Homo sapiens: one gene and its partners. The protein of the gene in region 4 interacts with the protein of the main gene of each other region in a biochemical or structural test. Each region holds a gene or a part of one and is shown on either strand. Other genes may lie near its edges. The genes, in order: KPNA4, SIRT1, WDTC1, CUL4B, DCAF1, AHR and DCAF6.

Region 1 (3,500 bases), on a different chromosome or scaffold from region 4:
AGTTTTGTCTTTTTTCTTGTTACTTTCTTTGATGGAGAAAGCTGAGAAATAAAAAGGGACCCCACTGATCAACATGGGGGTTAGGGGAAGAAAAAATGGATCCTAGCATGAGACAGAAGGTCTAAATTGTATACATCTTGCATAATTATTCAAATAATTAAGAGCTAACTATATACCAAAAAAATGGTATCTTAAGCAACAAAAATTCTATTTACTATGACTTTATGCTTTTACAGTAATACAGTTCAAATTTCTGTAAGCTATTTCACAAAAACTAGTACTGAAGGCAAACTGTTTTCTCTTTTGGATTACTAGTAGCTATTTTTATTACTTAGTATATGATAACAATTTTTAGACTAGTATTACAAGTTTTATACAAACCTATGATATTTCCCAATGCCCACACTGCTTGCTCACAGACATTCTGATGGGGTGAATGGAGAAGCCTCAGGAAAAGTGGCACAGCATCTGATGGAAGAAAAAATAACAATACTTAAGGTTGAAGATACCATAAACCAAAAATCAATCTTTATTTTTTTGCTGAGACCTCAAAAAAAAGGGAACCTATAAAAATATACTTAAAATATAACCTCATTAAATGAATTTTATTGGAATAGCATCATTGGAAGAATTTTGACCAGTGACTATTTACTCAGTATCAAAATGAGTTATCCAGACAAGTGTTAAATTAGGCTTGTGAAATTTCATTAACAATTAAACCTGGAATTAATTTCAAGATTAATTCCTTATAGATTATCTGTAGTTTGAAAAAAAAAAGTACATTATTGAAGTAACTTTTTTTTTGTTTTTTTGAGACGGAGTCTCACTCTGTCATCCAGGCTGGAGGGAAGCGGTGGAATCTTGGCTCACTGCAACCTCTGCCTCCCAAGCTTCAGTGATTCTCCTGCCTCACCCTCCCAAGTAGCTAGGACTGCAGGTGTGAGCCACCATGCCTGGCTAATTTTTGTATTTTTAGTAGCGACAGGGTTTCACCGTATTGGCCAGGCTGGTCTCAAACTCATGACCTCAAGTGATCTGCCTGCCTTGGCCTCCCAAAGTGCTGGGATTACAGGCATGAGCCACTGCACCCGGCCTGAAGTAACTTTTGAACACAAATTTATGTTAACAACATGTGGGTCTTTAAGACAGGCCAGTGATTCCTGGGCCATGTGGGATCTTCCGAATCAGAAAGTGATTCTGTTACTCAACAGGATGGGAAACAGAGATAGGTCTGTATCTGAACAAAATACTGCACTGAACAAATGATTCTTCTTCTTTCCTTCTGATATTACTTTAAAAAGCACTATTTAAGTATATGTAGCTCAATCATGCTTGTAATATCATAAAAGGTAATTCACTTATGGGTTTGTTTTTGAGATAGTGCCTTACTCTGCTGCCCAGACTGGAGTTCAGTGGTGTCACCACAGGTCACTGCAGCCTTGACCTCCCCTGGCTTAAGTGATCCTCCTACCTCAGCCTCCTGGGTTGTTGGGACTATAGGTGCATGCCACCAAGCCCGGCTAATTTTTTTTTCCTGCATTTTGTAGAGATGGGGTTTTACCATGTTGCCCAGGCTGGTCTCTAGCTCCTGGACTCCAGTAATCTGCCTGCCTCAGCCTCCCTAAGTGCTAGAATTACTGGCATGAGCCACCATGCCCAACCTCATTTATTTATTTATTTATTATTTTTGGTATATTAAAGCAGACTAGCAGGGTCAAAAAAATTCTAAGCCTCTTTCTAATCTTTAGAGAGCATACATAACAGAAAGGAAAAAGTGTGAGAGGGAATAAAACATTGTTATGAAACCAAAAATTTTCCTAAGAGTCAGCTATACAAAACCAAAAAACCACAATAAAAACCACCTGAACCCAAAACCAAACCAGTTTTAATAGGATGTGAGGTAATTATCTTTTCTAAGTAATATTACAACATAAGTGTCTACAGTAAAATGATTATTTGGATAACATCTTTGTTCCCCTTCAAAATGTACAAATTAGTGCTTACATTTTTAATAAGCTCAGAGAAGTATGCTGCTTACATATTTAAAGAGGATTTTAAAAGTATCTTCTTTAAAATTATTAATTTCTTTGTTTGGTAGAACAATCAAATACTATTCATGAAGACAATACACTCGGGTTCTTACTTCCAATAATTTTCCACTTACATTTCTTGAAACAAAAAAAAGCAATCCTATTATAATAACAATGAAAAAAAAATTCGAGCCATTCTTTCAACTAGGACTACTTTATAGAAGATTTCTTTAAAATATATGATATGGCCGGGCGTGGTGGCTCACACCTGTAATCCCAGCACTTTGGGAGGCCGAGGCAGGCGGATCATGAGGTCAGGAGATCGAGACCGAGACCATCCTGGCTAACACAGTGAAACCCCGTCTCTACTAAAAATACAAAAAACTAGCCGGGCGTGGTGGTGGGCGCCTGTAGCCCCAGGTACTTGGGAGACGGAAGCAGGAGAATGGCATGAACCCGGGAGGTGGAGCTTGCAGTGAGCCGAGATCGCATCACTGCACTCCAGCCTGGGCGACAGAGTGAGACTCCATCTCAAAAAAAAAAAAAAAAAAAAAAAAAGAGAAAAATCTCATTAAGAGAGGCTGAGGCCCGGTGTGGTGGCTCATGCCTATAATCCCAGCACACTGGGAGGCCAAAGCAGGTTGATCACTTGAGCCCAGAGTTAGAGACCAGCCTGGGCAACATGGTGAAACCCTGTCTCTACAAAAAACACAAAAATATTACAAAAATTAGCTAGGCACAGTGGCACATGCCTGTAGTCCCAGCTACTTGGTGGACTGATGCGGAAGGGTCTCTTGAGCCTGGGAGGCCGAGGCTACAGTGAGCTGAGATTGTGCCATTGTATTCCAGCCTGGCCAAAAGAGTAAGATCTTGTCTGAGAAAGAAAAACAACAACAACAAAAAAACAAAAACAAAAAAAGAGAGGCTGAGAGGCAATGTGGCAACAGGAAAAACTCCTTTATTTCTACTGATGTCCTATAAATAAAGTGTAACAATAATAATGTAATCTGCTACTATAATTAGGAAATGTTCTCATATTTAGAAAGGAATCAAGTGAATTTTTGGAAATACAAAAAACATCAGTCACCAGAATAAGAAGATTAAAGTAACATACTTAAGTTGACCTATTTCAATAACTACGTAGTAGCTATTATTTTATAATTTAAATTGCCATAGTCTTTTGGGAAGATCACTATTTTTTACCGACTTCTTTTAAAAAAAATCACAATTATGTTTATTAATAACCAACTTACTGGACTGAACTACTGCTTGAGTTTGTTCAGAAGTTCCAGATGCAATGTTTGTCAAAGCCCATGCAGCTTCAAACTGTAAAGAAGGACTACAAAAAAAAACAAGTATTTTTAAACAGCAGGGATTTTTACATTGGGCCAAATATCTAACCATTCTTCCTTCTACCATTTAAAATGCATTAAATATTTTGTTTCAAAAGTTATCTATCCATCCAGCATA
Region 2 (4,823 bases), on a different chromosome or scaffold from region 4:
AAATTGGCCTGACTTAAAAATTCCTTATCTGTGTTAAAGATGGAATATGAGGTATGTTTAATTTTACTCAGTTATTTGGGAGTTTTATTTCTGAAATAAGGGTAGGGTTGTATTTTTATTTCTTAAAAGAAGTTTCAGACTAAAATTTTCTTTCTCAACTCTTACCTAATTATATGGTAAGAGAGCTAGCTAGTTCCTATAAAGGTAGAAGATTTAATTTTACAAATTATGCCATGCACATTTTAGGTGTCTGTTTCATGTGGAATACCTGACTTCAGGTCAAGGGATGGTATTTATGCTCGCCTTGCTGTAGACTTCCCAGATCTTCCAGATCCTCAAGCGATGTTTGATATTGAATATTTCAGAAAAGATCCAAGACCATTCTTCAAGTTTGCAAAGGTACTATGAACTCTTCTGGTTGTTTCTTTGGCCTTCTCTCATGAAAAAGTATTTTGTTCACATACAGCCACCTTAAGGTTATCGTTCATTGTTTAGTAAAGTGAATGCTGCTACTGTGGCGGAGTAAGATCACTCATTATGGCTAGAATTCCTTTATTCCTAGAGGAGGACTATTATCTACTTCATTTTAGGAGTGAGCTTATTTTCAAAGAGATAGTTCATATTTTTAAAATTTGCACTGCAGCGATGGTCGTTATTCTGCCTGGGCTTTTTTAAGAGGTTTGCACACCATATAAAAGTAACATAACTTGTGATTTTTAATATTTTATTAGAGATTGTAAAGGTTATAACATCACTTTGGTGTTTCGTAGTCAAGTTTTAACATAAGGATGTGCCTGAAAAATCATTTGTAATTAGAGAATGGGAAGATTCTTGGGTTGCATTTTTGTCAGCAAATTGCAGAGGATCATTATTCTGCTCTAGAGTTGCACCGTCCAGTTCAGAAGCCACTAGCCACATGTGGCTGTTGAGTACTTGAAATGTATTGATATGTGCAATAAGTGTAGAAGACATATTGGATTTTAGAGATCCAGTATGGAAAATACAAAGTATTTCATTAGTTTTATTCATCAAATATTAAACAAATATTGGTTTTTATATGGAAAAAATACTTAAAATTAATTTTGAATTCTTTTGAAATACTTTTGATATTGGGTTAAATAAAATGTATTTTGGGCTGTGCGTGTTGCCTCATGCCTGTAATTTCAGCACTTTGGGAGGCCAAGGTGGGAGGATCAGTTGAGCCCAGGAGTTTGAGACCAGCCTGAGCAACATAATGAGACTCCATCTCTACAAAATAAATAATAAAATTTGCTGAGCATGGTGGTGTGCACCTGTAGACCCATCCACTCAGTAGTCTGAGGTGGGAAGATCCCTTGAGCTCAGGAGCTCAAGACTGAGTGAACCATGATCTGCCATTGCACTCCACCCTGGGCAACAGAGCAAGAGTGTTTCCAAAATATATGTATGTTTTTTGAAGTTTACTTTTTTTTTTTTTCTTTTTTTGAGAAGTAGTCTTCCTTTGTCCCCCAGGCTGGAGTGCAATGGCATGATCTTGGCTCATAGCAACCTCTGCCTCCCAGGTTCAAGTGATTCTCCTGCCTCAGCATCCTGAGTAGCTGGGATTACAGGCGCCCGCTACCATGCCCAGCTAATTTCTGTATTTTTAGTAGAGACAGGGTTTCACCAGGTTGGCCAGGCTGGTGTTGAACTCCTGACTTCAGGTGATCCACCCTCCTCGGCCTCCCAAGGCTCTGGGATTATAGGCGTGAGCCACCGCGCCTGGCCAGTTTTCACCTTAATGTGGTTACTAAACAATTTAAAGTTATATGTATGTCTCACATTATGTACCTATTGTACAGCTCTGCTTTAGCATAGAAAGTTTAATAATGCATTACACCATTCTCAAGAGATTGAGTCATTAGAAAACTGTTTTCTTTCCTGTATTTCAGTCTTTTGGAAAGAAATTACAAAATTTGTTATTGTTAAACTTGGAGGTATATATATTTGAAAGAGTCATTTTATTTTATTTTACTTTAAGTGCCGGGATACATGTGCAGAATGCGCAGATTTGTTAACATAGGTATACATGTGCCATGGTGGTTTGCTGCATCTATCAACCTGTCATCTAGGTTGTAAGCCCCACATTCATTAGGTATTTGTCCTAATGCTTTTCCACCCCTTGCCCCCCACCTCCTGACAGGCCTCTGTGTGTGGTGTTCCCCACCCTGTGTCCATGTGTTCTTATTGTTCAACTCTCACTTATGAGTGAGGACATGTGGTGTTTGGTTTTCTGTTCTTGTGTTAGTTTGCTGAGGATGATGGCTTCCAGCGAAGGAGTCTTGTATTAGTGGCTTTTTCCCCACCTAATCGTTAGAAGTTGTGAATAGGGACTTCTTTAATGAATCCAGAAGTTAATGAACCTAGCTTTTTTTTTTTTTTTTTTGGAGACGGAGTCTGGCTCTGTTTCCCAGGCTGGAGTGTAGTGGTGTGATCTCTGCTCACCATACAACCTCCACTTCCCGAGTTCAAGAGATTCTCCTGCCTCAGCCTTCCGAGTTGTTGGGACTACAGGCGCGTGCTGCCATGCCTGGCTAATTTTTGTATTTTTGGTAGAGACGGGGATTCACTATGTTGGCCAGGTTGGTCTTGAACTCCTGACCTTGTGGTCCGCCCATCTCAGCCTCCCAAAGTGCTGGGATTACAGGTGCGAGGCACCGCGCCCCGCGCCCTGCCGATGAACCTAAATTTTAACTAAACAGTGGCCTTATCTACTTTCAGACCATGTGGTATATTTACATGACTACAGGAGAAGCTTTGCTAATTCAGAATAAATTATGTTACTTAAATTGGCGACTGTCTTTAAAAAAAAAGTGATTTTTTGGATGCAGTAGCTCGTGCCTATAATCCCAGTGCTTTGGGAAGCTGAGATAGGAAGATCTCTTGAACTCCGGAGTTTGAGACCAGCCTGCGCAACACAGTGAGACCCTAATCACTACACCCCTCCACCCCATGTAACTTTTGTTTTATCCAGGTTGTGGTATATTAAATGGGCATTAGTGTAAAGTGGGAAAATTATATTAATTCTTGAATATGATTACTAAACTGAATTTGAAAAGTTTTCAGGCTATCAAGAGAATTTTTAACTTAAAACTTATATAATTTGAACTTTTTACTTCATATATCCGTAATGATGATGGTCATCTATATCTAGCTTTTAGAGCAGACAACTGGTTCATACCTGGATTAAATAAATAATGTAAAGTTATTTTTTGTTAATTATGGATTAGTGAAGATTTACTGTTTTAACCTACTCCTGCTAGTGGCACTACTGCATGGTTTTGAAGACCAGTGAAGTATGACTTAAAGGTTTCTTGAATTGGAGCTAGGACACTGGCATTTATAAAATCTCCACGTAGCGCAGACATTGACACTATCAGAAGACCAGCAAGTAACTAGAAGTTACTTTGATCTTAAATCAACTACAAAAAACTTGACTCACTAGTTATGGAGAATACATTTTTTATTGTTAAACTGAAAAAAAATTCAGTCACTTATAAGGTGTAGCCTCTTCTAATCCTGTTTATATAAATTTATTTATTATTATTATTTTTTGAGATGGAGTCTTGCTCTGTTGCCAGGCTGTAGTGCATTGGCGCGATCTCGGCTCACTGCATCCTCCACCTCCCGGGTTCAAGCAATTCTCTTGCCTCAGCCTCCCAAGTAGCTGGGACTACAGGCACGTGCCATCACGATCAGCACTTTTAGTAGAGACGGGGTTTCACCATGTTGGCAAGGACGTGTCTCGTCGTGACCTCGTGATCCGCCCGTTTCAGCCTCCCAAAGTGTTGGGATTACAGGTGTGAGCCACAATGTCCAGCTGATAAATTTAATTTTGCTTTTCTGAGTTTTCATTTATGGTAATGGTTAAATCAGCTAGGCTTTACAGTTGTTACTCACATATAATTCTTTGTCCATCCTTTAATTCTCACATTGGGAACTGACTAAAAAAAGAAAGCTTCCAGTCTGGGCACAGTGGCTCACACCTGTAATCCCAGCACTTTGGGAGGCCGAGGTGGGTGGATCACCTGAGGTCAGGAGTTCAAGACCAGCCTGGCCAACACAGCAATACCCCGTCTCTAATAAAAAATACAAAAATCAGCCAGGCTTGGGTGGCGGGCGCCTGTCGTCCCAGCTACGCAGGAGGCTGAGACGGGGAGAATTGCTTGAAGCCAGGAGGTGGAGGTTGCAGTGAGCCGAAAGCGCTTAAGGAGAAATAAGTAAGGACAAAGAGTGCAGGATAGTATCCTGACACGGAGGATGGGGAGGGTATGTAAATATTGTCGATATTTTACTGAATTTCTAAATATTACAAGAATAGAATATTCATAGGATAACCTAAGCTTTTCTGTGAGTCAGTGTACTAGGCAGAAAGTTCACTAAAGTGGTTTATGATTTTTGCTACTTATGAGAAAACATTAAAAATGAAGCCATGAAAAGGAAATATTGGTGAAATTTAGATACTTCAGAAGGAAAGAGAGACTTTCTTTTTTTTTTGGAAAGAATTTCTATACCATCTATTATATCATTGATTGTATGTGATTATTGAGAATTAACTTGTTTTTTTTTTTTTTGTTTTTTTTTTTTGAGACAGTTTTGCTCTTGTCACCCAGGCTGGAGTGCCGTGGTGAGATCTCGGCTCACTACAACCTTCACCTCCCGAGTTCAAGCAATTCTGCTGCCTCAGTCTACTGAGTAGCTGGGATTACAGGTGCCCATCACCACGCCCAGCTAATTTTTCTAATTTTAGTAGAGACGGGATTTCACCATGTTGGTCAGGCTGGTCTCGAACTCCTGACCTCAGG
Region 3 (4,823 bases), on a different chromosome or scaffold from region 4:
TTCAGGCCTATGTGTAACTCTGAGAGTTCTAGGGCCCATTCTTTGAGCTATTAAGTAATAGCTGCTGACTCCTTGAAGGGCTTTGTGGCATTGAAGACTAATACCTTAAAAACTTTTAAGCCTGGGCTGGGCGCAGTGGCTCATGCCTGTAATCCCAGAACTTTGGGAGGCTGAGGTGGGCGGATCACAAGGTCAGGAGTTTGAGACCAGCCTGGCCAAGGTGGTGAAACCCTGTCTCTACTAAAAATACAAAAATTAGCCTGGCGTGGTGGCGGGTGTCTGTAGTCCCAGCTACTCAGGAGGCTGCGGCAGGAGAATCGCATGAACTCAGAAGGTGGAGGTTGCAGTGAGTTGAGATCGCAACACTGTACTCCAGCCTGGGTGACAGTGAGACTCCATCTCAAAAAAAAAAAACAAAAAAACTTTAAGCCTGAATAAGGGGAGGATGCAGTCAAAAGGCCAGAGTGTATAGGAGGCAGTGTCAGAGGCCCTGTGCAAAGAAAATTCTCAGCTACTACTGCAGAGCCAGATTTGAGGGTCACCGTTGGCATTTTTGTATTTATTATCTTCTTTTAGGATACAAGGTCACAACTGCTAGAGCTGTAACAGAGCTCAGTGCCAAGAATAATGACCCTTAATCCTCCGTATAGCCATCTGGGGAGGTATTAACCCCATTTTCTTGGAGATGGGGTGGAGAACAGGATCAGACCTTGCCCAGGGAGCTCTCCAGAGGCTGTTGAGGGCAGTGTTTGGATCAGGACTTTTGTACAATTTTGTCCTTATTCATGACCCCCCAAATTCTATAAAACTGCTTATCCTTGAACCTCTTAGGGGGCCTTCCTGAGAATGGGAGCTAGGCATTCATGGTCAGGGAGCTTCATAGTTGAGGCCTGAGTGTTTGGGTGCTGATGGCCTACCTGGTTCCCTTTTGAGTTACACATCTGGATATAACACTACTGTCACTGAGTTAGAAAGGAAACATTTCTAACTTGAATGGTTTAGTTTTCCTTGACCTTGCAGCTAGTAGTAGAGTTACAGGATGAAACTCCAGAGCCTTCTCTACAAGAGATATTTTGAATTGTGGCAGGATTTGTCAGGATGCAAGTTAAAGACTGCAGATGCTTTTAAATAGTGAGAGAGTATAGCATTATCAAAATATGCTCCCTTTTCTCTGTTTCCTTCCACTATCTTAAGGTAATTGTGAGGCCTAAGAGCAGACAGGAAAATTAGCTATGATCACTGGAAAACAAAGTTCTGAAAACATCCAGAAAAAATTTTCACAAAGCTCAAACAAGTGGCTGGGTGTGATGTCTCACACTGTTTTTTTTTGTTTTTTTTTTTTTGAGAGTCTCGCTGTGTCACCCAAGATGGAGTGCAGTGGTGCAATCTTGGCTCACTGCAGCCTCAGGCTCCTGGGTTCAAGCGATTCTCTTGCCTCAGCCTCCTGAGTAGCTAGGATTACAGGCGTGTGCCATCACGCCTGGCTAATTTTTGTATTTTTAGTAGAGACGGGGTTTTACCATGTTGGCCAGGCTGGTCTCCAACTCCTGACCTCCAGTGATCCTCCTGCCTTGGCCTCCCAAAGTGTTGGGATTACGGGGATGAGCCACCGTGCCTGGCCAGATGGTTCACACTTGTAACCCTAGCACTTTGGGAGGGTGAGATGGGAGGATTGTTTGAGGCCTGGACTTCAAGAACAGCCTGGGCAAAATGATGAGACCCCCATCTCTACAAAAAATAAAAATAAAAGTAGCCAGGCATGGTGATTTGCACCTGTAATCCTAGCTACTCAAGAGGCTGAGGCAGGAGGATCCCTTAAGCCTAGGAGTTCAAAGTTGCAGTAAACTGTGATAGTGCTACATTCCATTCCAGCCTGGGGAACAGAGCTAGACCCTGTCTCTTTTTTTTTTGAGACGGAGACGGAGTTTCGCTCCTGTCGCCCAGGCTGGAGTGCAATGGTGCAATCTCGGCTCACTGCAACCTCTGCCTCCCGGGTTCAAGTGATTCTCCTGCCTCAGCCTCCCGAGTAGCTGGGATAACGGGTATGCACCACCACGCCTGGCTAATTTTTTGTATTTAGTAGAGACAGGGTTTCACCATGTTGGTCAGGCTGGCCTCAAACTCCTGACCTCAGGTGATTCACCCACCTCGGCCTCCCAAAGTGCTGGGATTACAGGCGTGAGCCACCGCACCCAGGCGACCCTGTCTCTTAAAAGCTCAAACAGCAATACGGAGCCCACTGGGCAGGGGAGAAGACATCAAGGTGAGTTTTTATCTAAAGCTTCCCAGAAAGTAAAGCATTGCTTAGAAGCAGCTCTCTTCTGCAGAGAAAACCTCAAGCAGTCCTACATGGGATTATTTAAGCCAGGAGCCTCAAAGATGGCTAAGAAGTTTCCTGAAGATGCTTTGGTGATGAGTCTATCCTACCAGCGAAAGCTTTCCCAGAAACTGTCCTTGTACCAACTTAGTCCATGACCTTGAAATGGCACTCTTTAAATTTGTGTTTGAGATCAGCAGAGTCAAGGCAGCTTAACCCTAAGGAATGGTAAGAGACAAAGTTTCAGCAGCTTCCTGAAATTGTATCAATACTGATATTACAGGTGTGAGCCGCTGCTCCCTGGCCAGTAATTTTTTTTTTTTTTTTTTTTTTTTTTGAGACAATGTCTCACTCTGTCACCCAGGCTGAAGTGCAGTGGCATGATCTCGATCTTGGCTCACTGCAACCTCTGCCTCCTGAGTTCAAGTGATTCTCCTGCCTCAGCCTCCCCAGCAGCTGGGATTACAGGCGCCTGCCACCATGTCCGGCTAATTTTTGTATTTTTAATAGAGACAGGGTTTCACCACATTGGCCAGGCTGGTCTGGAACTCCTGACCTCAAGTGATCTGCCCGCCTTGGCCTCCCAAAGTGCTGGATTACAGGTGTGAGCCACCACACCCGGCCCAGTAATTATTATTTAGTGGCCAATGGCCTGGCCCCTGGAGTCAGACTGTATAGGTTGACTCTCTGTCTAAGAACTGTGTAGCTTTGGCAACTTCACTTTTCTGTGCCTCAGATCCTGCATCTGTAAGATGAGGATAACAATAGCACCTGTCTCATAGGATTATTATGAGGAGTCTGTGAGATGACACTTGTAAACTGTTAGAATGTTCAATAAATATTATTTAATAGGATCAGTGTCAGGCATTTTACATGCAAGCGCTTCTGTTCCTCCTCACCCTGCAGAGGTAGGTATTATCAGATTAGGAAACTAAGGTTTAGAAGTGTCAAGTCAGGGTCTGGCATGGTGACTCATGCCTATAATCCCAACACTTTGGGAGGCTGAGGTGGGCAGATCGCTTGAGCCCAGGAGTTCGAGACCAGCCTGGGCAGCATGGTGAAACCCCATCTCTACAAAAAAAAAAAAAAAAAATGCAAAAATTAGCCAGGTGTGTGTGGGTGGTGCATGCCCGTGGTCCCAACTACTCGGGAGGCTGATGAGATGGGAGGATCTCTTGGGCCCGGGAGGCAGAGGTTGCAGTGAGCTGAGATCATGCTACCACACTCCAGCCTGGGTGACAGAGCCAGACCCTGTCTCAAAACAAATAAAAATTTTTTTAAAAAAATTAAAAAGATGAAGAGACGTAAGAGGTATAGAAAAGAAAAAAAAATTTAAAAGAAATGTCAAGTCAGACAGAAAATAGGTGTCAGAACTGGGATTTGAACCTAAGATCTGTTAGGTCCACAGCTACACTCTTCATTTTATTATGCTCTTTCTTTCTTTTGTTTTGTTTTGTTTTTGAGACAGCGCCTCACTTTGTCACACGGGCTGGAGTGCAGAGGCACAATCATAGCTCAATATAGCCTCAAACTCCTGGGCTCAAGCAATTCTCCCTCCTCCCTCCTGCCTCAGCCTTCCTAGTAGCTAGGACTACAGGAGTGTGCCACCATGCCTGGCTAATTTTTAAAAAACTTTTTTATAGAGACAGGATCTTACTCTGTTGCCCAGACTGCTCTCGACCTCCCGGCCTTCAAGTGATCCTCCTGCCTCGGTCTCCCAAAGCACTGAGATTACAGGCATGAGCTACCACACCTGGCCTTATGTTATTTCCAATGACCTTTATGCATTGAAAGTGAAGTTGAGTCCTTGCTTCGTTGCATCTTTCATCTTTTTTGTAGGATTGCTCCAATAGAACCACTATAAATAGAGTGAAAGGAAACTTGCATACATCTTTGCATAATTCAGAATGTTGAAAGGGGGTCAGTTGTCACCCTGGTTGGGGGCACGTCTCTGCTATGGGAGGTAGCATGTCCAGAGGAAAGAGAATACAGATGTTTTAGGTTCCATCTCTGGTCTGCTGCTAACCAGTAGTGTCTACTTAAAATCTCAGCATAGTGTCATCGGAAGGGGTTTTGTAGCTTATCTCAGAGTCCACCTCTCATTTTACAAACGGCAGAATAGACTGAGAGAGCAAAATGCCTCACTCAGGGTCATACAGCCAGTTAAAGGCAGAGGCTGGCTTGGAGCACAAGACCCTAGATCTCCCAGTCCAGTGCTTCTTCCTCAGTACCATGTAGTATTCTGCTTCACTTCTCCCTTGTTAAATGGGGATTATTATCGTACATGAATATTCATAGCAGCATTATTCATAGCAGCGTTATATTAGCTTTCTAACTTCCTAAAAGGATTGTTGCAAAGTTCAAATTAAAAGCTTGAACAAAAGTGCTTTGATAGGTATAAAACATTGTGTGTAAGGCAGTCATGCCATTATTCATTCAGCAAATATTTATTGGTGCCTGCTAAGCTTACATCACTCCTGGAAGACCAGTGGGATCAATGGATGAA
Region 4 (4,345 bases):
TTATTAGGATTTATACCTTTTGCTCTCTCTGAACATTTAATCATCCCCTCTTTTGAAACATTCACCTGCAGCAGCTTTTGTGCCTCTGCACTATGCTGCTTCCTTTATTTCACTGTTGCTTCTGCATTGGTTTCCTTCACAGGTTCCTCTTTCTACCATCTGCCAAATGTGAGCCTTTTCTAAAGTTCTGCCTCTGCTGTTTTTTCTTCCTCTTTGAGAGAAATCTACTCCCTGGGCCTTCATAATCATCTCCATGGAGGATTCTCAATATCTATCTGTCTAGCCTTAATCCCTTTTATGGGCTTCAGTCCTGGACTAGACAGTTTACCAGGAGTCAGGATAGATTTAATCAAGGACCCATCATTTAGCAATCCCACCTATGGGTGAAATATGTGCAAGAATTCTTAATAGCTAGGTAGAGTGAGGGGTATAACCTGGGAAGATGGAAGAAGAGCCAGGGAAATTGACCCTGAACCCAGAAATTTGGCATTATTAGCTATGTGCTTAACTGGACTTCTAAGTACAAAAGTAAAACATTAAAGCAGTTGGTATTTGGTGTTGGTGCGCTTACTGACATACACTTTTAAAAGTATCCATGCCAAGCCTGGTGACTTACACCTGTAATCCCAGCACTTCGGAAGGCTGAGGCGGGGGGGATCACTTGAGCCCAAGAGTTCAAGACCAGCCTGAGCAATACAGCGAGACCCTGGGTCTCTATTTTTTTCTAAGTATCTATTTTTAAATGACAAGCAAAATGGAAATGCTATGATTTCTATGCCTATAACTCAGTTCTAAACAGTAACTCTTACCTCTGGTGGTAAATGAACTTCCATAGGCACATATGTCGGCCAATAGCCCATTGTCAGGATATTCACAGTTAACTCAATATTTCCCGGAACATTCTGATTCTGCATATACTATAAGAAGATCAAAACACACACTGAGATCTTAAAACTGCATACATTTCATATCATAATAACCTATTTAAGAAGTTCCCTGTTATGAAATTACATGCAAACACTGACCATCCTTAAAATAAAAGGCAACTATTAAGAAGACTTTAAATGAAACCTACACAAAATGCACTAGGCAAGTACAGAGGTTAACATTTTGATACAAAGGCATACAAGGATCACATGACCTCATTACAGGCGTTATCAACTTAAATAATTTCTCACATACAGCTGGGCCGTTATAGGATCTCTTCTCCATTCTTTTCCCCAATACCACCTGCAGTCCCCACCTTTGAATACCCCTATGTGGCTTAAACACCTTGCAGCAACCCCCATTCCTCACCCCCCAGCCAGCCCAAGTCTCCAGTTTTTCACTTGCTCCACTGCCTGTCTGCAGGGAGTGACCTGGAGTAGGGAAGGAAAAAGAGGGGAAAAGGGCAAAGCAGATAAGCCCTATTCTGTAGCTACTATAGAATCCATAATCTTACTGACCCTGATTTTTTCTTAATTCTTTCACTTCCACTTCCCACCTTAGCAACACTGTGGGGTAAAGAAGTCACTACTAAAACCCAAAAGAGGAAAATCTAATTTGCCATCATTATCACCTATGATCTTAAACATTTCAAAACTACTTTCTACCTACATCTTCAAAACTGTGGATCTAGCTTTCTATCCCCAATGTCCCCAAAGGCTTTTATACAGCTGCATTATCACTTCTCCTCTCTCCCCATTGCAAGCTCTGAACATGCAAATTACCAAACGATAAGATGCTGAGGAAAGCCCTTTTCCCACTATAGCTCTTCTTGTACTGACTTCAGTTCAATACATTTTATTTTTATTTTTGTGTTATTCTGGGTGTTTGTCAAAAATAAATCCTAAAGTAGGTCAAATATACTTATATTTCACCAATTTTTTTTTCTACTGTGAATATCACCTCAGTTGCCATGAATTACAACAAACACGTTTCTATTTATCCTCTTTAGTACAAATCATAGCAAGCAGATAACTAAATACAACTAAGTTTGAGGAATTAAGAGTTTAACTCACTTTTACCTGTTTGAACTGAATCATGATGTCTTTAGAAAGTTCCATGTCTTTAAACATTCCTTCAAGTTTGCTGGTGAAAGCAGCTCCGCATTCTATTAAAGATGTTTGTACATGTATAATATTTTAAAGTGGTAAAAACAAAAGAGGTTTAAAAGTGGGAAACACGAAATACAAAACTTTAGTATGAAGTATGATCTGTAACTTTCATAAGAATAAAAAGAAATCCTTACCCCAAAGTGTATGCCCCATTAATTCAGAGTCAAACTCTTTAATCCTGTAGTAACCTTATCTACTATTTAGGTATAAAATAAATGGGAAATTTTTATACAAATAATAAAACCAAGAACAATGCTTTATCTTAAAAAAAACAACTCTGGATATTATGTACAATAAGTTGGAAACCTCAGGAGCTTGCTCAATTTATGTTTTCATCATATATACATAGACATGAGTGACAAAAGAGGAAATCGATTGAAAGGGTAAAAAGCTAACATTCTCCTTCAGGAATCAAAGAAAAGGAACAGAAAGAATGAGAAACCTACCATGTTTAAGTTTGGACAGCATTGATTTTTCAGCATCTACAGATGCACTCTTTCCGACTAACAGGCGCTTGGCTAAATCTTTCTTATAGAAGGCCTCAAAAACATCCTTGCCTATGTAAAAAGAAATGCAAAATTTATAATATTCCAATAAAAAGTACTGACAAAACTGCTTTAAAGTGCTTTAATAAAGCACACCATTATTCCAAGTTATTTTACTTTACACATTTTATTTAAGTTTGTTAAATGCAAGAAACAGTAGAGATCCATTTTTGTGCCAGACATTTCGAAGTCTTTATTGTAAAACTTTTTTGCATGTAACTGTCTTGATTGCATTAACTTTTCTTCAGAAAAGCTTTTGTGGACTGGTAGCTTTGGTGCCAATATTTAAGAGATTAAGCCAAGTAGCAAAAATCAAGGCACTTAATACTAGAAGAGCCAAAGCATAGGACAATCAGGTAACATTCCTCACGTATCCCCCCAATGAATTAAACACAATTTTAAATCTGTAATTTCCAAATAAATATTCCCTCCAGTTTGAATATACTTGCTAGCTTCTCTGTTGAGTGCTATTTTAAAAGAAAAATATTAAAACATTAGTAAATACTTACCATAGATAAATCTAAATATGATCATAATTTTATCCAACATTTTCTCAAGTTCTTCATCTGTAGCTTCTTTGTTGCCTGCACGAAGTTTTGAATCTACATACTTAGCTAAAATGGGGGAAAAGTTTGTTGTTTAATAACCGGGGAATACACGAGGTACTGGGCACTATATATACCCAAAGAGGAGTATGATACACTGAGTTTTTCAATACTTCAGAAATTTATATGCATTTTTAAAAGTCTCCAAAGTCAGGAAGATCAACTGACTTGTTCAGTGCCATAGAGCTAATAACATCAGGGCCTGAACACAAACCCAAGTGTTCTGACTCCAGATCAAATGTACTTCCCACTATACTGATGTTTATGAAAATAGGATACGGATATCCTGTGGGGGAGGTCTCATGTAGCCCTGTGAGGGCATCATGTAATCCAAGCCACGAAAAGACATGAGGAATCTTCTGGAGTATCCATTTTATAGGAATAGTAAGCAATCTTAAACATTACTTTTCTATTAAAATAAACCAGATACATCGTAGAGTAGAAGGTAAAATTTGCTACATGTTTACGGATACATAGTAGATAGGTTGCAACAAAATTTCATCCTTTTGGCAGAGGACCCTAGACCTTCTCAGGTTACCTCCTCCTCTGACACTAAGGGTACTTGGGTGGAAAAACCTGAGAAGCACTGTAGTGTATATCACATCCTTATGCTAAATGGGCCCAGATTATTAGGTTTATTTTTGCCCTGGACTTTTTTCTTTTTCACTGACAACTGTAATTTCATGCTGCCCTTTTTTGTAGCTTGAAATAACACCCTGCCTCATTTTTAAATCATTAGGCTAGGAAAACAGATTAGCTTATTATCAATAAAGGTAAATAGTGTCCAACGTACTGTCTTTGAAAGAAAGCACATTATGTTTGACATGTGGGCTTTCAGTACTTACATCCAGGTTTTTAGAAACACTCTTCAAACTTGATATACCAGCTAAGCAACCTCAAACAAATCAGGAATTAGTAATACTACAACCTGGTAAAAATTTCAGATTGAGATTTTATGACTCAAAGAACATCATTAAACAACTGGAAAAAGGACTGGAAAACATACCTATAAGTTCAGCTGGTTTATTTGGTCTTTTGTTAATGAACGTTTCAAATGCTTCTTTCATGGCATTGATAAATTTCTCATTCTTCAGAAAGC
Region 5 (4,823 bases), on a different chromosome or scaffold from region 4:
CTAAGGAATTCCCATTCATTATTTTGTATCTGCTTGGTTAAGGTGATAGAAGGAATTTTCTTTGTAATCTAAGTGTATGATTGTTTCCTCTTTGGGAGTCCAGGATCTTTAGGTGAGTGTGATTGTGCAAGAGGCTGGGGGTCACCTGTGTTTCAGTTGGTTGCAGGAATATGTCCTGAAGATCTGTCACTTCAGTGCTCCTGTTGTTTGTCCATAGGCATTCCTTCACAGAAGATCACTATGTTGAGTTCAGTAAGCACTCCCAGGATCGGGTCATCGGCACAAAAGGAGACATTGCCCACGTAAGTACTTAAGAACCACTGTTTTCAAGCTGATCATACCCATTTGTTCATACTGAAATCTTCTTGATAGAATGTGAGGACCTAAGTCCTTTGGGCAACTAGAAATCAGTGATATTCCTTCTAGTTAGAATCTAAAAGTATGATAATATAGTTCTGAGCTGTATGGGAAAAATGTATAAGGGCTAAATGTGACATTGAGAAAGATGTCATTAGCACCACAGATATTTTTGAATTCTTAGTAAGTTTTAGATTAGAAATGAAACCCCTGCCTTTATGGACCCTCATTGGGGAGACAATAAAGAAGCAAATATACGGTAAATTTAGGTGGTAAGTGTTTCAGAGAAAATGAAAGCAGGGTAAGAGGTAGGAAATGCTTGGTGGTGGTGTGGGGGACTTCTCTTTTATCTAGGGTAGACAGCATCACTGATGGGGTAATGTTTAAGCAGAGCCTTGAAGGAAACGCGAGATTCAGGAAGATACCTGGAGGAACAGCGTAAGGCACAGGAAATGGCAAGGGAAAAGCCCTTGCTTGGGAGGTGGGAGGAGAGCTGAGGTCAGTGAGGGGCCTGTATCTGGTAGCATCTTGTAGGTGGTAGTTAGGGCCTTTAGCTTTTTTTTTGAGTGAGATGAAGACACTGGTGGGTGAGTAGAGGATACATGAGTGGATGTAAAGTTCCTGAAGTGTGACTCTGGTTTTTGTGAGAGAAGCAAGAGCAGCCTTCCAGGTCAGAGGGTGTTGTACCACCTGACACATGAGAGGAGCTGTGGGTTTGGGCCTGGGTAGGCATGGTAGAGGCTATGAGAAATGGAGGACCTTGGCCCTGGGATTTTGGACACATGAAATTTGAGATTCTCTTAGACATTCAAGTAGAGAATGGGGATTGAATACAAAAGTTGGGAGCTGGCCAGACTTAGTGGCTTCTGCCTGTAATCCCAGCACTTTGGGAGGCTGAGGTGGGAGGCCAGGAGTTCGAGACCAGCCTGGGCAACATAGAGAGACTCCCCCCATCTCTACAAAAAATAAACAAAATTGGCTGAGCTTGGTGGGCTTGGGACCTATAGTCCCAGCTACTCAGGAAGCTGAGACGGGAGGGTTGCTTGAGCCCATGAGTTGGAGGCTGCTGTGAGCTATGATTATGTCACTGTACTCCAGCCTGAGTAACCAAGTGAGACCCTGTCTCTGAAAATAAAAACAACAAAAAATTGGGAGTTCAAGAGAGAGGTGTGGGTTGGGAAATATAAATATGGGACTTGTCCACATATTGACAGTATTTATTTATTTATTTATTTTTGAGACAGGGTCTTGTTCTGTCACCCAGGCTGCAGTGCAGTGGCACGATCACAGCTCACCACAGCCTTGACTGCCTGGACTCAAGCAATCCTCTTACCTCAGCCTCCTGAGTAGCTGGGACTACAGGCGAGCACCATCACACCTGGCTAATTTTTTTGTATTTTTGTAGAGACGGCATTTCCCCAACGTTGCCCAGGCTGGTCTCGAACTCCTGGGCTCAAGTGATCCACTTTTCTTGGTGTCCCAAAATGTTGGCATTGCAGGCATGAGTCACTGTCCCCAGCTGATAGTATTTACAGCCATGAACTTATATGAGATCATCAAGGGGACTAGAGAAGAGTTGTGGGTATAGAACCCTGGCATGTGTTTAGGAGTTGCCAAATGAGGAACTTGGGAAGGAAATCAAATATAATGGCCAGTAAGGCAGAATGGAACCCCGAGAAAAAGAGGTGCCTGGCCGGGTGCGGTGGCTCACGCCTGTAATCCCAGCACTTTGGGAGGCAGTATTCTGTGGTAATCATTGATCCATGTGGAGAATTTGTGTGTTAATTTTAGAAACTGCTTTGCACATTTTCTCTTTAATTTGTCAGTGGATGGATTGGTCTGATTTTTCTCTTCCCATCCCTTCTTCTCTAAAGATTTATGATATTCAGACTGGCAACAAGCTGTTGACTCTGTTTAACCCAGATCTTGCCAACAACTACAAGAGGAACTGTGCCACCTTTAATCCTACAGATGATCTTGTCTTAAATGATGGCGTCCTCTGGGATGTCCGCTCTGCACAGGCCATCCACAAGTTTGACAAGTTCAATATGAACATCAGTGGTGTTTTCCATCCAAATGGACTGGAGGTGATCATTAATACTGAGATTGTATCCTTTATACTCATGTCTTACCTTCCATTTGTTGTCTGGTTTGTGGTGCAGAAATAATTTGTTCTATCTTTATACCAATACCTGGTTAAAGTGTCCACACTGGTAATAATATGGTGCCTGTCCTTTGGTTTGAAATGTTAGTGAAATCTCCAAAGCACTGTTGCCAATGTTAGTAATTACTGACAACTTTCACTAGCATGTTTTCTATGTATTTGGTAAGAGTGACCAGTTTCCTACCTCCCAGTTCTCCAAGAATTGAATTAGCTTTTATCTGTCTTCAGAAGGATTTTACTTTTGCTCTGTAAAAAATCAGTTGCCACATAAGAGGAAAATGAAGTACTACTGTTGGGAGGAAAAGAGCTCATAAAGCATTCCTGTATATGAGGATACCCTAGGATATTTTCAGAGACATCATTCAATAATATGCATTCTACATGTATTTGTTTTACCTTGATCTCATTGACTTTTAAAGTATCAATACCTGGCAGGAGGAAAAAAAGTGATATTTTAGAATTTCCTCCCATGAGATTAGATAAGTTTTGTGTAAAATAGTTTTCCTTGACCATTCCCCTCCTAGTGGGACCTTCGAACTTTTCATCTTTTGCATACTGTTCCCGCTCTGGATCAGTGTCGCGTGGTGTTCAATCACACGGGAACAGTGATGTATGGAGGTAATAAACCTTATCCTTCATTATTCTCTTTCCTTTTGCTCTACCCCTTCACTTAATTTGATACTTCTTTTTGGAACCATCTCTCACTTGTGAATTGGAAAGCATTTGAGAGTTGTAACATAAAAGATAAAAAATTGATAGTATGAATGGTGACAAAAGATATGAAAATAATGTTGGTTTAGGGTGAAAGGCAGCTTACTTTGAAGATAACAAGGAAATCTTGTATGGAAAGAAATTTCATGCAGTATTTTCCAGTGTATCATTATGAACTTAAGAGCTTTTGCATTTGTCCTCTTGTGTTGTTATAAGCCTTGTAAGTACAGTAACACTTCTTGGAGGTAGATGAGAGGCTGAGGATATTATTTGTCACAATAGGTGGGATATGCAAGGAAGATGCTCTGAGAGGAGCTAACTAGATGCAGAGTAGATTTCTGTACAAGGGAATTTGTATGTAAACCTATATGCAAGTAGATTGTTTTGATTGGCCATTAACATTTTCTGCACTTGTGAAGAGGGGATGTTTGTGATTCCTAATAGTGTTTCCTCCCCCACTCCCCCTCAAGCTATGTTGCAGGCAGATGATGAAGATGACTTAATGGAAGAGAGGATGAAAAGCCCCTTTGGGTCATCCTTCCGAACATTTAATGCAACTGACTACAAACCTATAGGTAAGCAGAAAGGGACAGACATTGAACATTTTGTCGTGTTTTGGTGTTCCTTATTTAAGATCCTTCATTTTCTGGAGGCCTGTAATTTTTTATTGAAAAACAGAGAAGTTATGGAAATACTTTTGAGCAATCATCCTGAATTCCTTTAGAGGAAAAGCAGGTTTTAGGGTCACAGCAATAGTCCAATCCCAATCTTCTCACATTCTATTTTCCAGCAACCATTGATGTGAAACGGAACATCTTTGACCTGTGTACAGACACCAAAGACTGCTATCTTGCTGTCATTGAGGTAAAGGGAGCTTGCAGAGGCCCTGCTCTTTTGTTCTGATGTTTAGGATAATTTTCAAGTTGTACTACAGACATTTTGTCTGATATAAGATGTAAAGTCAATACATTCCTGAAGGTAGATTATTGATAACCTATTCATTTGATGGGGCTTGGGAGATGTACAGTACAAAGAGAAATAGTAAGAAAATCCCAATATAAGACAGCTTAGAGGATCCTGTCTCCTTTTTTTCTGGACTCACACTGTCATCCCTTTCTCAGAGGAATCTGGATCTCTCACCAGAGCAAGACTGGTTTGTTCCAAGGGTGATGGTTCCTCACCAAGTCTTTTCATTCTGTTTTTCTTCCCCTTTATGTGTCCTAGGTATAACATTTTCATAGTCAGCTCAAGAATTTCGGGTATCAGAAGCTTTAATAATTACAGGGTCAAGGTCATGGGCACCAGTCAGGGCTGAGGCGTGGATGTGGACCTTCTGAAAAGTAACTGCTCCTTATGGACTGGATGTTCTATTTCAGAATCAAGGCAGCATGGATGCCCTGAACATGGACACAGTATGCAGGCTGTATGAAGTGGGCAGGCAGCGTCTGGCAGAGGATGAGGATGAAGAGGAGGACCAGGTCAGTGGTCTTTGAGATTTCTTTCTGCTGAACAGTGCTTAATAGAGGTTATGCTCTGCTTTTTGCTGTAGGAGGTTTTAAAGGTCTACTCAACCTTTGCTACCTGTTGCCAC
Region 6 (4,319 bases), on a different chromosome or scaffold from region 4:
GCCCAATTTTGACCCTGGTTTTTGGATTAAATTAGTTTGTGAAGGATTATGGAAAAATAAAACTGTCACTGTTGGACGTCAGCAAGTTCACATGGAGGCATTGATGCATGCTATTCACAATTATTCCAAACCAAATTTTAATTTTTGCTTTTAGAAAAGGGAGTTTAAAAATGGTATCAAAATTACATATACTACAGTCAAGATAGAAAGGGTGCTGCCACGGAGTGGTGAGGTACCGTCTACATTTCACATTATTCTGGGCACCACAAAATATACAAAACTTTATCAGGGAAACTAAGATTCTTTTAAATTAGAAAATATTCTCTATTTGAATTATTTCTGTCACAGTAAAAATAAAATACTTTGAGTTTTGAGCTACTGGATTCTTATTAGTTCCCCAAATACAAAGTTAGAGAACTAAACTAGTTTTTCCTATCATGTTAACCTCTGCTTTTATCTCAGATGTTAAAATAAATGGTTTGGTGCTTTTTATAAAAAGATAATCTCAGTGCTTTCCTCCTTCACTGTTTCATCTAAGTGCCTCACATTTTTTTCTACCTATAACACTCTAGGATGTATATTTTATATAAAGTATTCTTTTTCTTTTTTAAATTAATATCTTTCTGCACACAAATATTATTTGTGTTTCCTAAATCCAACCATTTTCATTAATTCAGGCATATTTTAACTCCACTGCTTACCTACTTTCTTCAGGTAAAGGGCAAATAATGATCGAAAAAATAATTATTTATTACATAATTTAGTTGTTTCTAGACTATAAATGTTGCTATGTGCCTTATGTTGAAAAAATTTAAAAGTAAAATGTCTTTCCAAATTATTTCTTAATTATTATAAAAATATTAAGACAATAGCACTTAAATTCCTCAACAGTGTTTTCAGAAGAAATAAATATACCACTCTTTACCTTTATTGATATCTCCATGATGATAGTTGAATGTTGCAATGTGAAAAATCTGCTGTTAACTGCAACCTTGTTTATTAAATTGCAAGAAGCTTTATTTCTAGCTTTTTAATTAAGCAAAGCACCCATTTCAATGTGTATAAATTGTCTTTAAAAACTGTTTTAGACCTATAATCCTTGATAATATATTGTGTTGACTTTATAAATTTCGCTTCTTAGAACAGTGGAAACTATGTGTTTTTCTCATATTTGAGGAGTGTTAAGATTGCAGATAGCAAGGTTTGGTGCAAAGTATTGTAATGAGTGAATTGAATGGTGCATTGTATAGATATAATGAACAAAATTATTTGTAAGATATTTGCAGTTTTTCATTTTAAAAAGTCCATACCTTATATATGCACTTAATTTGTTGGGGCTTTACATACTTTATCAATGTGTCTTTCTAAGAAATCAAGTAATGAATCCAACTGCTTAAAGTTGGTATTAATAAAAAGACAACCACATAGTTCGTTTACCTTCAAACTTTAGGTTTTTTTAATGATATACTGATCTTCATTACCAATAGGCAAATTAATCACCCTACCAACTTTACTGTCCTAACATGGTTTAAAAGAAAAAATGACACCATCTTTTATTCTTTTTTTTTTTTTTTTTTGAGAGAGAGTCTTACTCTGCCGCCCAAACTGGAGTGCAGTGGCACAATCTTGGCTCACTGCAACCTCTACCTCCTGGGTTCAAGTGATTCTCTTGCCTCAGCCTCCCGAGTTGCTGGGATTACAGGCATGTGCCACCATGCCCAGCTAATTTTTGTATTTTTAGTAGAAACGGGTTTCACCATGTTGGCCAGACTGGTCTCAAACTCCTGACCTCAGGTGAGCCTCCCACCTTGGCCTCCCAAAGTGCTGGGATTACAGGCGTGAGCCACTGCATTCAGCTCTTCTTTTCTTTAGATATGAGAGCTGAAGAGCTTAGACACATTTTGCATGTATTATTTGAAAATCTGATGGAATCCCAAACTGAGATGTATTAAAATACAATTTTTGGCCGGGTGCAGTGGCTCACGCCTGTAATCCCAGCACTTGGGGAGGGCGAGGAGGGTGGATCACGAGGTCAAGAGATGGAGACCATCCTGACCAACATGGTGAAACCCTGTCTCTACTAAAAATACAGAAATTAGCTGGGCATGGTGGCGTGAGCCTGTAGTCCTAGCTACTCAGGAGGCTGAGGCAGGAGAATAGCCTGAACCTGGGAATCGGAGGTTGCAGAGCCAAGATCGCCCCACTGCACTCCAGCCTGGCAATAGACCGAGACTCCGTCTCCAAAAAAAAAAAAAATACAATTTTTATTTCTTTTACTTTTTTTAGTAAGTTAATGTATATAAAAATGGCTTCGGACAAAATATCTCTGAGTTCTGTGTATTTTCAGTCAAAACTTTAAACCTGTAGAATCAATTTAAGTGTTGGAAAAAATTTGTCTGAAACATTTCATAATTTGTTTCCAGCATGAGGTATCTAAGGATTTAGACCAGAGGTCTAGATTAATACTCTATTTTTACATTTAAACCTTTTATTATAAGTCTTACATAAACCATTTTTGTTACTCTCTTCCACATGTTACTGGATAAATTGTTTAGTGGAAAATAGGCTTTTTAATCATGAATATGATGACAATCAGTTATACAGTTATAAAATTAAAAGTTTGAAAAGCAATATTGTATATTTTTATCTATATAAAATAACTAAAATGTATCTAAGAATAATAAAATCACGTTAAACCAAATACACGTTTGTCTGTATTGTTAAGTGCCAAACAAAGGATACTTAGTGCACTGCTACATTGTGGGATTTATTTCTAGATGATGTGCACATCTAAGGATATGGATGTGTCTAATTTAGTCTTTTCCTGTACCAGGTTTTTCTTACAATACCTGAAGACTTACCAGTATTCTAGTGTATTATGAAGCTTTCAACATTACTATGCACAAACTAGTGTTTTTCGATGTTACTAAATTTTAGGTAAATGCTTTCATGGCTTTTTTCTTCAAAATGTTACTGCTTACATATATCATGCATAGATTTTTGCTTAAAGTATGATTTATAATATCCTCATTATCAAAGTTGTATACAATAATATATAATAAAATAACAAATATGAATAATATGTTTTAATGTAAATTCTTTCTGGTCCACGTAAAGGAAATTATTTATTCTGTAGTATTATAACTATGTTAGATGAGGGCAATCTACAATACTTAGGGATATGTTAAGTCAGTAATTCATAAACTTCTTATACAATTTTGCCCCCCAATGTCTGACCTTTATCTGGATATAAAAAACACTCTCAGTAGCTTCATAAATTAAAATGCTTCTGAAATGAACTTTTTTAAAGCCCTGTGTTATCAGTGTAGTAGTGTGTCTTAGATTAAAATCCAAAATCCTATTTTAATATTTTAAGAATATTTCTGAAGAAATTCGAAATAACCCTTGTTAGCTGTATTTTGTGCTTAGTTTAGAAAAACCATTGCCCAAACTTAGTATTTCTGTTTAATAAGTATAAATGATACAGAAGCCTTTGGCCTTAAATTCATAACTGTTGAACATTCATGGAAAACCCTGCAATTAGAATTGATTGAAGAAGAATTCCTGAGAAAATGTTTTCATTCTTGTGACAGTTATTTTTCTATTAGTTTTATATTTGTTCTTTACAATTAGGCATTTTTCTCAACTAGCATATCATAAGTTAGCATCATACTTAATTCTGAACATTTTAGACTAATCCTGAGTCTTTAAGAATTACATAAAATATTTAGTTTTAACTATTTGATCTGAAAAAAATCAAGTAAAAATCCTGATAACCTGAGTGCATCTCTGCTTGCGCTTAGGTGATTTCTGTCACCATGAATGACTCTAGCTTGTCCAATTTCACCAGCTCTACCAAACACCGACCCAGGGATGTTGGCCACTGACAGGGCTGGATGACATCTCTCATTTCTTTCACTGTCTGCAGATGACCTTGCTTCCGTTTTTACTAATAAAATCAAGGATATCATCCTAAGTTTGTACCTTCACCTCAGCAATTCCTCTATCCTTGGACTTACCTCCAGTATGTGAGGAGGAGAGTTTCCTGAACTCCAGGGTTAGCCCCCGTCCTCTCTCGTTCTCATGCACACAGCTTCGACACCTGCTTTCTGAGAGGCTCTCCTTCTCTGTAGGATTTCCTGTGAATAGGTCCTCCTCCATCCTGGAAAAAAATTACTTGAACCTGCACTTTCTTCTCTATTAAATTACTTCTTTACCTTCTTCCTTTGTAACAACAGTTTTGATCTCCTGAGATCTGGTTTTGTTTTCCATCCTTCCATTATATTGCAGTGTTGCGGTTCACTAAACTTCTTACCATA
Region 7 (4,823 bases), on a different chromosome or scaffold from region 4:
ATTCTGTACACTCATTTGAGTATTTAGCCTATGTTGGTCCTACATGGTATTTTGTTTTGTAAGATATAGTAGTAAACTTCCTGAAGAGTAACAGAAGAACGATAAAATTCTTATCCTTCAAGAAACTTAATTATTTATGAATAAGAGAGAATACCGAAGCCATTTATAGGAACATAGAAAACATTTAATATATGAAAGTAAATACAATTATATATATATGTGTGTGTGTGTATATATATATAAAAGATGTGTATACTGAGGTAATTAGAAAGTGATTAGAGTAACAATTACATTAATTTTCCTTTGAGATTTGCATTATTTTCTAGCTCTTTACCAAAAATTTGTAAATGGTGTAAATATTTCCTCTGACTTTTATCTAAATCGGTTATTATAATTCTTAACTTTTTTGGCACCATCCTGATTTAATCTTGAACAACTGTAAAAAAGTATACTTTTAATATTTCTGCACCTTTCTAAGGGCTCTTCATCATTGACACTCCTGCCAGTTTATCTTACTTCTCAATTTAGCTGACTTTTATTCTAAAGAGAGAAAGTTTAAGAGATTTTGCTTCTTAAGAACATGAAAAGAATCACTTACCAGCTTGTAATTAGTCCTATGATTTTGGAGAGTTTCTGTTTCCCAAGAGACTAAGGGTTGTGAAGCTCTGTTGTAACAATCATACCATTTGGTTCCTAGAGTCCAAGGATACATTGCACACATGGATGAAATGCCCACCTAAAAGGATGTATGTCTTAAAGTTCCCTCCATGCTGCCATTTGCAAAGCCCAGTCAATATTAGTTTAGCTGGGGTAGAGAAGTGGTCCTAAAATTAAATATTATACAAGTGTATACTTAATTTGATCTGTACTTTATATGAAGAACTATATAGTGGACCTCATCAGTTTTTGTTCCAAATTTAATTTTTAAAAGGAAACTTTAAAAGGCTTTATAGCTAAGTCATTTCTGACAAATTTACTGAAAATATCAGAACAGTTCCTTGCAATACAGAGTAATGATTTTTAAAAAAATATTTACATTCTTATAATTTGGTTAAATAAATGACCCAGGTTTTCACTTTTGGGCTGAGATCAAGCATGAGAAGGAAATGTCTTAGAAAATGAAGACCTTAACAACTAACATAGATATTTTTAAATGGAATGCTCTTCTCATTAACTACAGCAAGTCTATGTAAATGTAACTGGGAGTCTATAGCAGAGCAGCAGACTTACTCCTAAAGAGCCATATAGTAAATATTTTGGCTTTGTTGGCCAGGAGACAAAATGGAGACCATTATGGTAGGTACTTATATGACCATTTAAAATATTAACATTTAAAAATGTAAAAACTATTCTTAGCCTAAGGTTCATTTCAAAAATCGGCATTTGGCGGAGATCTAGCCCAAGAGCCATAGCTTGCAAATACCTGCTCTATAGTAATCAGTGTTATAGAGAGAAATCAAACTATAGTCTGTGGTAAAATGCCTCTACTGGCAAAAATCCAGACTTTGAAACAATGAAATAATATGAATCTCCACATATTTGGGTTCCCTTTAACTTTGCGTAAGGCAAGAACATGGAACAGTAAATGGGAAATAAATTGAAAAAAGACAGAAAGAAATGTTTGTTCTCTAATCATGGTGTTTAAAAAAATAAAATTAGTCCTAATGTCAAAAATAAGTCTGACTTAGGAAAAAAGCAAAACAAAGCAAAAAAATAGTATGTGTATCTTTTAGTGATTTTATATACTGTATTTATTTCATTTTGTTTTATTTTTTTGAGACAGGGTCTTGCCCTGTTGCCCAGGCTGGAGTGCAGTGGTATGATCATAGCTCACTGCAACCTCATACTCCTGGGCTCAAGCGATCTTCCTCCCTCAGTCTCCCAAGTAGCTGGGATTACAGGTGCATGTTGCTGCACTCTGCTAATTTGTTGTTGTTGTTGTTGTTGTTTTTTTTTTTTTTTTTTTTTAGAAGAGACAGTCTCACTATGTTGACCAGGCTGGTCTTGAACTCCTGGCCTCAAGCCTCAGCCTCCCAAAGTGCTGGGGGACTATAGGCGTGAGCCACCGCGCCTGGCCATATACTGGGTTAAGAAACGTAAATATATGCCCTTGGAATGAAAAGAGTGTGGTTGAGATCTCTGTTTAGATAATCTGCATATAATTTTTTTTTTTTTTTTTTTTTTTTTTGGAGACGGAGTCTCGCTCCCTCACCCAGGCTGGAGTGCAGTGGGGCAATCTTGGCTCACTGCAAGCTCTGCCTCCCAGGTTCACGCCATTCTCCTGCCTCAGCCTCCCAAGTAGCTGGGACTACAGGCGCCTGCCACCACGCCCAGCTAATTTTTTGTATTTTTAGTAGATACGGGGTTTCACCGTGTTAGCCAGGATGATCTCGATCTCCTGACCTCGTGATCCGCCTGCCTCAGCCTCCCAAAGTGCTGGGATTACCGGCATGAGCCACCGCACCCAGGCTGTATAATTTTTTTTTTTTTTTACAATGCCAAATCTGTTGTAAGTGATTTGACGGCCTGATTGGTAGCTCTTACTGTTTCTAAACTCAAGAGAAAACCTAAATTACTCTCTGAAAAAAAAAAACAAGCATCTAAGAAAGCTTCCTGAATAAGTCCTCACATAGTCTTGAATAGTTTTTAATTATAGCCTCAGTTAGGATGATCTAACAATTTTTTCCCTAAAGAGTGATTTATCCTATATTGCCCTTTAATAACTTTTAAAGTGTTATTTTCATAGAAATTTGGTTCCATATACCTACTCTGGACCATGGAGCATAGCCCTCACTTTTAAAGCCAAAATTCCTTGTACTGTAAATTTGGCAGCATTTATTCAGTCATCATTGTAACCATGATTTCCTTATTTCTCATTATTGCAGTTTACTCTTTATTAAAGAAAATTGCAGAGAGAAAAGATGTACTCAAAGAGAAAGAACTGGACTCCTAGGGAGTTAAAAGCCCTGTTATTCTTTGCTCATTTGTTATATAGTCTTGTGGTTAGGCCAAGTGAATTAGCTTAGGGCTTAATTATTTATTTTCCAAAGAGCTCCTCAGCTTTGAGGAGCATGTACGTGTTCCAGAGGATGGTATTCATTATAAGCCAGTGCAGTTTCCCATACTGTGACAGGATTGGGTTCTGATTTATTTAAAAGATAAAAGGGATTAAGTGCAATGTCTTCCTTCTATTCTAGCTTCAATGAGTGTTTCTGTTTCCTTAATTTCTTCATATACATTTAGTTGACTGACATATTCCTTGCTTAATGCCCGAAGTCACAAAGGGAAACAAAAGTTTTTTTTTAAATTGAGATGATTGATGATAAAAAGGGTGTCCTTAATGCTTTAAATATTTGGTTCTTTGAAGTCTTTGTAAGTGATTTCAGTTATTGTGTTCCCTTCACTAGATTTAATATCAGAGGAACAACAATAGGTGATAGAATAATGAGGTAATTCAGTATGTTCCTTCATAATTTTTTTTTTATGATGGATTTGCCAGGTCTTCTTTTGCCACAGCTAACCACCTTTCCTATTAACAGTTAATACTCCCTTTGGACTTACTGAATTCTAAGTGCTAAGCATTGTAAAGCAGGTCGCTTTCCACAAACTATATTTAGCTGCATGCACTGCATGGGGATAGAATGAAAAGAAATTTCCTGTGTGCAGACTGATGTTCACTTCAAATATGTCATATGGCAAAGTAACTATAATCTGAAATGATGTACTTTAAGTATCAGTTACTCTTTTTGGATATTTTGTTGAAGAATGCAATTTATGTTTTTTAAATTTGATTGGGATAACAATTACCAACTTTTTGTTATTCGTATATGCTCCTTTTCCTTGAGCTCAATAACTAAAAATGTACTTGAATCTAAATCTGTGTATAGGTTTCTGATTTTTGCAAGAAAGTTGTTTCCTTATAAATAGTTTAGAAATAGTGTCACATATCAAGATGATATATAAGCCTCAAGCACTTCTCTATTTGGGACATATTTTTGAGTAGATCTTTAAAGTGAACCTCAATGACATCAGTCACCTACTGAAAACCTGTTTTGCTGACAAAATCAACCTTGTACTTAACTCTAGAGGCATATATCTGTTATTTACCATCAGTTTCTAAAACAGTTGAACATGAAACATATAGCAACAATCAGAAATGTAAAGTTTGTAGAGTTCCTAATGAAAAATACAGAAGTCATGAAATAAGCCAAAAAATATAATAGATGTATGGAAATTTCTGGTTATGGTTCATTGTCAGGAGGATTCTCATCTACAAGTCTCAAATTTGTTTTTGCTTCTCAAACTTGTTTTGTTTTGTGCTGTTGTTTCTAGCCTGTTTTAACATTAAGGTATATTTGAAATAACTTTTTCAAATTATTACTAGTTATCACTTTCTTTTTTTTTTTTTTTCCCCAAGATGTAGCCTTGCTCTGTTGCCCAGGCTGTAGTGCAGTGGCGCAGTCCCAGCCCACTACAACCTCTGCCTCCAGAGTTAAAGTGATTTTCCCGCCTCAGCCTCCTGAGTATCTGGGATTACAGGCGCCCACCCACCAGGCCCAGTTAATTTTTGTGTTTTTAGTAGAGACAGGGTTGGTCACCATGTTGGCCAGGCTGGTCTCAAACTACTGACATCAAGTGATCTGCCCATGTTGGCCTCCCAGAGTGCTGGGATTACAGGCTTGAGCCACCGCATCTGGCCTAGTTATCACTTTCTGATTAATTGTATGACAATAAAATGGAATTTGCTTCAGAGTTTTTTGATATCCTGATTTATACTTTTTATCACAAGTACGCAAAGCTGGTTTCTGGTTTTATAATGAAAA

The links.
Region 1: the proteins of CUL4B (region 4) and KPNA4 form a complex in vitro, tested with the Homo sapiens proteins (one study listed by BioGRID).
Region 2: the proteins of CUL4B (region 4) and SIRT1 form a complex in vitro, tested with the Homo sapiens proteins (one study listed by BioGRID).
Region 3: the proteins of CUL4B (region 4) and WDTC1 form a complex in vitro, tested with the Homo sapiens proteins (one study listed by BioGRID).
Region 5: the proteins of CUL4B (region 4) and DCAF1 form a complex in vitro, tested with the Homo sapiens proteins (one study listed by BioGRID).
Region 6: the proteins of CUL4B (region 4) and AHR form a complex in vitro, tested with the Homo sapiens proteins (one study listed by BioGRID).
Region 7: the proteins of CUL4B (region 4) and DCAF6 form a complex in vitro, tested with the Homo sapiens proteins (one study listed by BioGRID).

What each region holds. Positions count from the first base shown.
Region 1 is NC_000003.12:160,527,572-160,531,071, forward strand, and holds part of KPNA4 (importin subunit alpha-3), read right to left. Parts: intron 3,370-3,500; coding exon 3,284-3,369; intron 469-3,283; coding exon 382-468; intron 1-381. UniProt on the Homo sapiens protein: Functions in nuclear protein import as an adapter protein for nuclear receptor KPNB1. Binds specifically and directly to substrates containing either a simple or bipartite NLS motif.
Region 2 is NC_000010.11:67,891,156-67,895,978, forward strand, and holds part of SIRT1 (NAD-dependent protein deacetylase sirtuin-1), read left to right. Parts: intron 1-246; coding exon 247-399; intron 400-4,823. UniProt on the Homo sapiens protein: NAD-dependent protein deacetylase that links transcriptional regulation directly to intracellular energetics and participates in the coordination of several separated cellular functions such as cell cycle, response to DNA damage, metabolism, apoptosis and autophagy.
Region 3 is NC_000001.11:27,240,571-27,245,393, forward strand, and holds part of WDTC1 (WD and tetratricopeptide repeats protein 1), read left to right. Parts: intron 1-4,621; exon of another isoform or gene 4,622-4,823. UniProt on the Homo sapiens protein: May function as a substrate receptor for CUL4-DDB1 E3 ubiquitin-protein ligase complex.
Region 4 is NC_000023.11:120,536,118-120,540,462, forward strand, and holds part of CUL4B (cullin-4B), read right to left. Parts: coding exon 4,253-4,345; intron 3,256-4,252; coding exon 3,151-3,255; intron 2,654-3,150; coding exon 2,543-2,653; intron 2,093-2,542; coding exon 2,007-2,092; intron 918-2,006; coding exon 810-917; intron 1-809.
Region 5 is NC_000003.12:51,412,266-51,417,088, reverse strand, and holds part of DCAF1 (DDB1- and CUL4-associated factor 1), read left to right. Parts: intron 1-217; coding exon 218-302; intron 303-2,231; coding exon 2,232-2,465; intron 2,466-3,045; coding exon 3,046-3,139; intron 3,140-3,702; coding exon 3,703-3,807; intron 3,808-4,022; coding exon 4,023-4,096; intron 4,097-4,608; coding exon 4,609-4,710; intron 4,711-4,823. UniProt on the Homo sapiens protein: Acts both as a substrate recognition component of E3 ubiquitin-protein ligase complexes and as an atypical serine/threonine-protein kinase, playing key roles in various processes such as cell cycle, telomerase regulation and histone modification.
Region 6 is NC_000007.14:17,343,071-17,347,389, forward strand, and holds the end of AHR (aryl hydrocarbon receptor), read left to right. Parts: 3' UTR 1-3,077; downstream 3,078-4,319. UniProt on the Homo sapiens protein: Ligand-activated transcription factor that enables cells to adapt to changing conditions by sensing compounds from the environment, diet, microbiome and cellular metabolism, and which plays important roles in development, immunity and cancer.
Region 7 is NC_000001.11:168,047,485-168,052,307, forward strand, and holds part of DCAF6 (DDB1- and CUL4-associated factor 6), read left to right. Parts: intron 1-3,407; coding exon 3,408-3,449; intron 3,450-4,823. UniProt on the Homo sapiens protein: Ligand-dependent coactivator of nuclear receptors. Enhance transcriptional activity of the nuclear receptors NR3C1 and AR. May function as a substrate receptor for CUL4-DDB1 E3 ubiquitin-protein ligase complex.